Linked DNA regions of Homo sapiens. The protein of the gene in region 1 purifies or fractionates together with the protein of each later gene. This does not show direct contact. Each region holds a gene or a part of one and is shown on either strand. Other genes may lie near its edges.

The links.
Region 2: the proteins of SEC63 (region 1) and TBL2 purify together in Homo sapiens (affinity purification with mass spectrometry; 2 studies listed by BioGRID and IntAct, with this or other methods). This does not show direct contact.

The regions. Positions count from the first base shown.
Region 1 is NC_000006.12:107,951,509-107,955,417, forward strand, and holds part of SEC63 (translocation protein SEC63 homolog), read right to left. Parts: intron 1-3,909. UniProt on the Homo sapiens protein: Mediates cotranslational and post-translational transport of certain precursor polypeptides across endoplasmic reticulum (ER). Proposed to play an auxiliary role in recognition of precursors with short and apolar signal peptides.
Region 2 is NC_000007.14:73,576,222-73,580,130, forward strand, and holds the start of TBL2 (transducin beta-like protein 2), read right to left. Parts: upstream 2,359-3,909; 5' UTR 2,329-2,358; coding exon 2,199-2,328; exon of another isoform or gene 2,091-2,198; coding exon of another isoform or gene 2,069-2,090; exon of another isoform or gene 1,752-2,068; intron 481-1,751; exon of another isoform or gene 351-480; coding exon of another isoform or gene 320-350; intron 1-319.

The DNA.
Region 1 (3,909 bases):
CTCCCAAAATGGCAACTACAGCAAAAGACCATTACTAAGGAAGCTCTCCTCCAAGCAGCACTTCTCAAACATAGCTACAATTTAGAATCATATAGGGATATTTAAAAAATACCAGTACATAACACCCACTCCAGACCAAATAAATCAGAGTATCTGGGGATGGGTACAAGTGTTTTAAAAAGTTCCCGAAGTGGGCCGGGCGCGGTGGCTCAAGCCTGTAATCCCAGCACTTTGGGAGGCTGAGGCAGGCGGATCATGAGGTCAGGAGATCAAGACCATCCTGGCTAACCCCGTCTCTACTAAAAATACAAAAAATTAGCCAGGCGTGGTGGTGGGCGCCTGTGGTCCCAGATACTCGGGAGGCTGAGGCAGGAGAATGGGGTGAACCCAGGAGGCAGACCTTGCAGTGAGCTGAGACCGCGCCACTCCACTCCAGCTTGGGTGACAGAGCGAGACTCCATCTCAAAAAAAAAAAAAAAAAGTTCCCGAAGTGATTCTAATGTGTAGCCAGGGTTAAGAATCACTATGCCAAGGAAATCTAAGCCCTCCGTGTTATCATTGCATACAGAGCTTTTGTCCTTAATTGTCTGAAGAAATATTCATTTTATTCAGCCAATTTGCAAACCAAGAGAGTAAAACAAATAACTACTAAAAGGGGTATTAATTATAAGTACGCTTAGCTAAACATGTTAAGCAGAAATCAAGGCAAAAGTATTCCATTAATAATGTTTTAGATAACAGGTACGTTCAATTAACATGTCAAATATGCCAATAAACGAACTATTTCCATTTTTCAAACCGCAGACTTTACAAGCTGTGAAATGGTGCTATGCTTTCTGGTGTATTCAAGAGCCCACTAATTCCAAAACAGCCATGCTGAAACGACTGTCAACCTTAAAAATTGAAAGTCCCAAATGTGTTGCAGAAAACACACAAAAAAAAACCTCAATAAAGATTAGTTAAACTGGGCCGGGCACAGTGGCTCACAGCTGTAATCCCAGCACTTTGGGAGGCCGAGGTGGGCAGATCCCTTGAGGTCAGGAGTTGGAAACCAGCCTGGCCAACATGGTGAAACTCTGTCTCTACTAAAAATACAAAAATTAGCCGGGCGTAGTGGCAGGCACCTGTAATACCAGCTACTTGGGAGGCCGAGGTGGGAGAACTGCTTGAATCTGGGAGGTGGAGGTTGCAGTGAGCCAAGATCTTGCTATTGCACTGGAGCCTGGGCAACAGAGCGAGACTTCATGCCAAAACAAACAAAAAAAAAATTACTTAAACTGAACTTTAAGGTTGTGTAACTGCCAGAGCAAACCTTTTCATGCTTTCATGCACATGCTATCTCTGAAAATACTGTCAGAAGTCTGAAATTCAAACGCATGCCTACATTTTTGTATTTGGCTACTTAACTGTTTCACAGGAAAACTAAATAAACTAAGCCTCAAAAACAAGTATTAAAATATGCTGCTGTGGCCAGGGAACAGTGGCTCACGCCTGTAATCCCAGGACTTTGGGACGCCGAGGCAGGTGGATCAATTGAGGTCAGAAGTTCGAGACCAGCCTGGCCAACATGGTGAAACCCCATCTCTACTAAAAATACAAAAATAAGCCAGGCATGGTGGCTCGCGCCAGTTTTCCTAGCTACTCAGGAGGCTGAGGCACGAGAATCGTTTGAACACGGGAAGCAGAGGTTGCAGTGAGCCGAGATCACGCCACTGCACTTCAGCCTGGGTGACAGAGCAAGGCTCCATCTCAAAAAATAAAAATACTTATATATGCTGTTGTGTTTCCCCAAAACTGTACTACGGGGGTCCTCATCTTTTACTTAAAATCCTTAAGAACAAATGTGCTTCAGAATTTTTCAGATTTGCCCCGTCCGGGAAGGAGGTGGGGGGGTCAGCCCCCCGCCCGGCCAGCCGCCCCGTCCGGGAGGTGAGGGGCACCTCTGCCCGGCCGCCCCTACTGGGAAGTGAGGAGCCCCTCTGCCCGGCCAGCCGCCCCGTCCGGGAGGGAGGTGGGGGGTCAGCCCCCCGCCCGGCCAGCCGCCCCGTCCGGGAGGGAGGTGGGGGGGTCAGCCCCCCGCCCGGCCAGCCGCCCCGTCCGGGAGGTGAGGGGCGCCTCTGCCCGGCCGCCCCTACTGGCAAGTGAGGAGCCCCTCTGCCCGGCCAGCCGCCCCGTCCGGGAGGGAGGTGGGGGGTCAGCCCCCTGCCCGGCCAGCCGCCCTGTCCGGGAGGGAGGTGGGGGGTTCAGCCCCCCGCCCGGCCAGCCGCCCCGTCCGGGAGGGAGGTGGGGGTGTGAGCCCCCCGCCCGGCCAGCCGCCCCGTCCGGGAGGGAGGTGGGGGGGTCAGCCCCCCGCCCGGCCAGCCGCCCGGTCCGGGAGGTGAGGGGCGCCTCTCCTCAGCCGCCCCTACTGGGACGTGAGGAGCCCCTCTGCCCGGCCACCACCCCGTCTGGGAGGTGTACCCAACAGCTCATTGAGAACGGGCCATGATGACAATGGCGGTTTTGTGGAATAGAAAGAGGGGAAAGGCAGGGAAAGGATTGGGAAATCGGATGGTTGCCATGTCTGTGTAGAAAGAGGTAGACACGGGAGACTTTTCATTTTGTTCTGTACTAGGAAAAATTCTTCTGCCTTGGGATCCTGTTGATCGGTGACCCTACCCCCAACCCTGTGCTCTCTGAAACATGTGCTGTGTCCACTCAGGGTTAAATGGATTAAGGGCGGTGCAAGATGTGCTTTGTTAAACAGATGCTTGAAGGCAGCATGCTCGTTAAGAGTCATCACCACTCCCTAATCTCAAGTACCCAGGGACACAAACACTGCGGAAGGCCGCAGGGTCCTCTGCCTAGGAAAACCAGAGACCTCTGTTCACTTGTTTATCTGCTGACCCTCCCTCCACTATTGTCCTATGACCCTGCCAAATCCCCCTCTGTGAGAAACACCCAAGAATGATCAATTAAAAAAAAAAAAAAAATCAAAAAAAAAAAAAAAGAATTTTTCAGATTTTAGAAAAGTAACACAGCGTTTACACTCAAACAGACCCTATGGGGTCTAAAGTGCACCAATAACCAAACAAATTAATATTCCAAGACAGAACATAACTATTTATTAAGTGAGATAAAGATTATTCAGTAGCCTCCTGTCAGTACAAGTCGGCAAATTATTTTGCAGCAAACTTCTGAAAAAAGTTCCTTATTCAGAGCTTTGAATGAGGCAGTAATTCAAGATTTCTCTTTCATATTCAAGATACTGCAACTGGGCTGCAGAAAAAAAGTCACTATGATGAAAACATCCTTTTACTACAACTGTAATTCCACAGAAACAACTCAAGTTATTAGGGTAAATCCAAGAAAAAAGTCCAAGTGGTGCCCAACAATTTTCATAATGATTAGAATAGCATTTAAGTATTCACCTTAATTTTCATAACACAATTTTGAGCAAGAGCAAACAAATACATCAAAATATGCATATGGACTAAGGCAAGCCTGAAGCAGAGAGCCGGATGTAAAACGGGCAAACTGACACCCATAATAGTTCACCTAACTTTCTATCTAGCAGTATGGAAACCACACAGGGCTCTGAAGCTAAGCGACCAATGTTCTAATCCCAGTTCAACCATACAGGAAAATTACTTACATGCTCTACCCTCAGTTTCTTTACCTGTAAATGGAGATAATAATAGAACCTACCTCACTGCATTGCTGGAGTGTGGTGGCACGATCTCGGCTCATTGCAACCTCCAGCTCCCGGGTTCAAGCAATTCTCCCTGCCTCAGCCTCCCGGGTAGCTGGAATTACAGGCGTCCGCCACCACTCCCAGCTAACTTTTTGTATTTTTGTAGAGACGGGGTTTCACCATGTTGGCCAGGCTGGTCTTGAACTCCTGACTTTAGGTGATCCGCCCGCCTGGGC
Region 2 (3,909 bases), on another chromosome or scaffold:
TGATACAGAGTCTCGCTCTGTTGCCTCAGTCTCGATCTCCTGACCTTGTGACCTGCCCGCTTCGGCCTCCCAAAGTGCTGGGATTACAGGCGTGAGTCACCATGCCCGGCCCGGCAGCTGGATCATCTTGATGCCCAGGAGTTCCACCAGTCTGGCCAACATGGTGAAACCCCGTCTCTACTAAAAATACAAAAATTAGCCGGGCGTGGTGGCAGGCGCCTGTAATCCCAGCTACTCAGGAGGCTGAGGCAGGAGAATCACTTGAACCCAGGAGGTAGAGGTTGCAGTAAGCCAAGATCGCACCACTGCACTCCAGTACCTGAAAGAACTCGGGGATGAGAAGTCAACATCTGTTGAGTCCTGTGCGGGGGAGTGGAGCCAGTCACTTTTGTAAAAGATACTTAATTGAGTCACAAAGCTGGCATGTGGTAAATGACTGCAGATGCTCCCCAATTCCAACAGGAAAAAAGCTCCTGGGCCCTGCAAACAAACACAGCCACAATCTGTCCTCTGCTTCCTTCTCTCCAGGCATGTCTAACAAGCCCCCCTCCTCACACTTAAGTCATACCAAATGCTGTTTGGGGACTCCTTGCCTTCTCGGGTATTGCCATTGGCAGGAATGTCTTTTTTCCTTGGCCTTCTGGCAAACTCTTCTTCTAGAACCATCCTTTGAGACCCCACACTACCTCATGTGCCCCCTATTCTCAGTAATGATTTCCCTAACAACCACCTCCCCCATAAAAGAACAGGACTCGGCCAGGCAGGGTGGCTCACGCCTGTAATCCCAGCACTTTGGGAGGCCGAGGCAGGTGGATCACAAGAGGTTAGGAGATTGAGACCATCCTGGCTAACACAGTGAAACCCCGTCTCTACTCAAAAAATACAAAAAATTAGCCGGGTGTGGTGTCGGACGCCTGTAGTCCCAGCTACTCAGGAGGCTGAGGCAGGAGAATGGCGTGAACCCAGAGGCGGAGCTTGCAGTGAGCCGAGATCCCGCCACTAGACTCCAGATTGGGCGACAGAGCAAAACTCCGTCCCCCTGCAAAAAAAAAAAAAAAAAAAATGCAGGGCTGGCCGGGCACAGTGGTTCACGCCTGTAATCTCAGCACTTTTGGAGGCCAGGACGAGTGGATCACCTGAGATCAGGCGTTCGAGACCAGCCTGACCAACGTGGCGAAACCCCGTCTACTAAATATACAAAAATTAGCCAGGCGTGGTGGTGTGTGCCTGTAGTCCCAGCTACTCGGGAGGCAGAGGCAGAAGAATCGCTTGAACCTGGCAGGCGGAAGTTGCAACGAGCCAAGATTGTGCCACTGCACTCCAGCCTGGGCAAGAAGAGCGAAACTCTGTCTGAAAAATAAATAAAAAGAGCAGGGCTGCCCACTGACTCTCTGGTGTTTCCCATTTCTAGTACTAACCTCTTCTATGAAACTTTTCAGAGACAGGCTCTTGCCGTCACCCAGGCTGAAGTACAGTGGCGCGATCTATCACAACTCACTGCAGCCTTGAATTCCTGGACTCACGACACCCTCCTGCCTCGGCCTCCCATGGAGCTGGGACTACAGGGGCGTGCACAACCACACCCAGCTAATTTTGCGTAGAGATGGGGTCTTGCTATGTTGCTCAGGCTGGTCCCAAACTCCTGGGCTCAAGCGATCTCCCTGCCTCGGCCTCCCAAAGTGCTGGGAATACAGGCGTGAGCCACTTCGCCTGGCCTCAGTGAAACTTATTTCACCGTGTTTTTCACTTACATATTTAGGTGTTCATAATACAGATGTACTTCTCCTTTACTGGACTCCTTACAGAAAAAGACCCCAAAGCCTATCACAGGGTCATAGATGCCCAGTAAATGCTGCTGCACATCACAGAATTGGTGCTTTTTCCGAGATCGCGGCCACGGAGCAGGCTGAAGAGTTTACGGTGCTCTCCTGGCCACCCCGGGGACGGCCTGGCCTCGGCCACAGAGAAAGCCGCAGTAAGGGGCCCAGGTTGGAGCCAGTCCCGCCCCAGGAGGTGCGCCTAACCCGGCAAGGCGGGTCCCCGTCTCTGGAAGCGAAGCTCACGTTACCAGAGGAGAAACTGAGGCCCATGGAGTCGCCGGGCCCCACCAGCCGCGGGCCCAAACCGCAGGTCGGACCACGAGGAGGCCGGGAGCCGGGACACCGCGGGCCGCCCCCACCCGACCCGGCCCCACTTACAGGCGGGCCGGCCGCTCCTCTCCTCCCCCGCGCGCAGCCACCCCCGCGCTACCGCCGCCGTCGCCATCAGGGCCAGCAGCCCAAGCAACACCGACAGCCCCATGAGCTCCGACATCTGCGAGAGCTCCATGTTGGTGGAACCACTGCCACCTCAGCTAGTGAGTACGCGGGCGCCCGCACGGCTCTGCCGGGCCGCGCACGCACGCGGGGGCGCGGCCTGGCCGTTGGGGAGCCTCAAGCGGCTGGGCCTGGCCGTTAGAGCGCCTGGGGGCGGAGCCTGGTTGTTACAACGCCTTCAGGGCGGGGCCTGGCCGTTAAAGCACCTCAAGGGGTGGGGCCCGGCTGTTGTGGCGCTCGAGGGGCGGGGCCTGGAGTTAGAGCATCTCCACCCGCCGAGCCTAGTTATTAGAGCGCCTCGAGAGGCAGAGTCTGGAGTTAGCGCGTCTCGAGGGGCGGGGCTGGGTTGTTAGAGCGTCTCGAGGGGCAGAACCCGGAGGTAGAGTGTCTCGAGGGGCGGGGCCTGGAAGTAGAACATCTCGAGGGGCAGGGCTCGACCCTTGGTGCGTTTCGAGGGGCGGGTCGCCTGGCGGTTGAGATTGCAGGGCTGCGGAGGGCGGAGGAAGGCGGGATTTGCGATCACTGCTCACGCCTCCTCCTGAAGAACTCACTGATAATTGTTTATTAAAGGCATTATTCCAGCCATCACCACACTGGATCCTTTCAAGGAAGCGGGGCGGGGATTATTATTACCATTTAACGGATAGGAAACTCAGCATCAGCGAAAGTTCAGATGGGCTTTTAAGGAAGAGTAGGCCAGGCGCGTGGAGTGGAACAGCCTCCGCAAAGACCTGAGAAGCTGGGATGTGGGAAATGGCTAGAGGGGCGGAAAGGTCTGGGGGACGTTGAGCGCTGGCTCCATCCAACAAGCTGCTCATTACAGGGAGAGGTGGGGCAAAAGCTGTGTCTGAGGATTCCCTGGATGGACCTTTGTGTGAAAAGACCAAAATCAGAAAACCGGCAGTGGCTTCAAGGATCCGAGAGGGAGGTGACGAGGGCCTGGATTTGGGGCTGGCCTGGCAAGTCGAAAGTTAAAAGGGAGAATTTTTAATAGAAAACTTATTTTATTTATTTATTTATGTATTTACTTTTGAGACGGTTGCCCAGGTTGGAGTGCAGTGACGCGTCTCGGCTCACTGCAACCTCCGTCTCCCGGGTGCAAGAGATTCTCCTGCCTCAGCCTCCAGAGTAGCTGGGATTACAGGCGCGTGCCACCATGCCCTGCTACTTTTTGTGTTTTTTATAGAGACGGGGGTTTTGCCATGTTGGCCAGGCTGGTCTCGAACTCCTGACCTCAGGTGATCCACCTGCTTCGGCCTCCCAAAGTGCTGGGATTACAGGCGTGAGCCACCATGCCGAGCTGGGAGATTATTTTTATTTTTTATTTTTTGAGATGGAGTCTCGTTGCACTGTCGCCCAGGCTGGAGTGCAATGGCGCCATCTCTGCTCACTGCAACCTCTGCCTCCCGGGTTCAAGCGATTCGCTTGCCTCAGCCTCCCGAGTAGCTGGGATTACGGGTGCCCGCTAGCATGCCCCGCTAATTTTTTGTATTTTTTAGTAGAGACGGGGTTTCGCTATATTGGTCAGGCTGGTCTTGAACTCCTGACCTCGTGATCCGCCCGCCTCAGCCTCTCAAAGTGCTGGGATTACAGG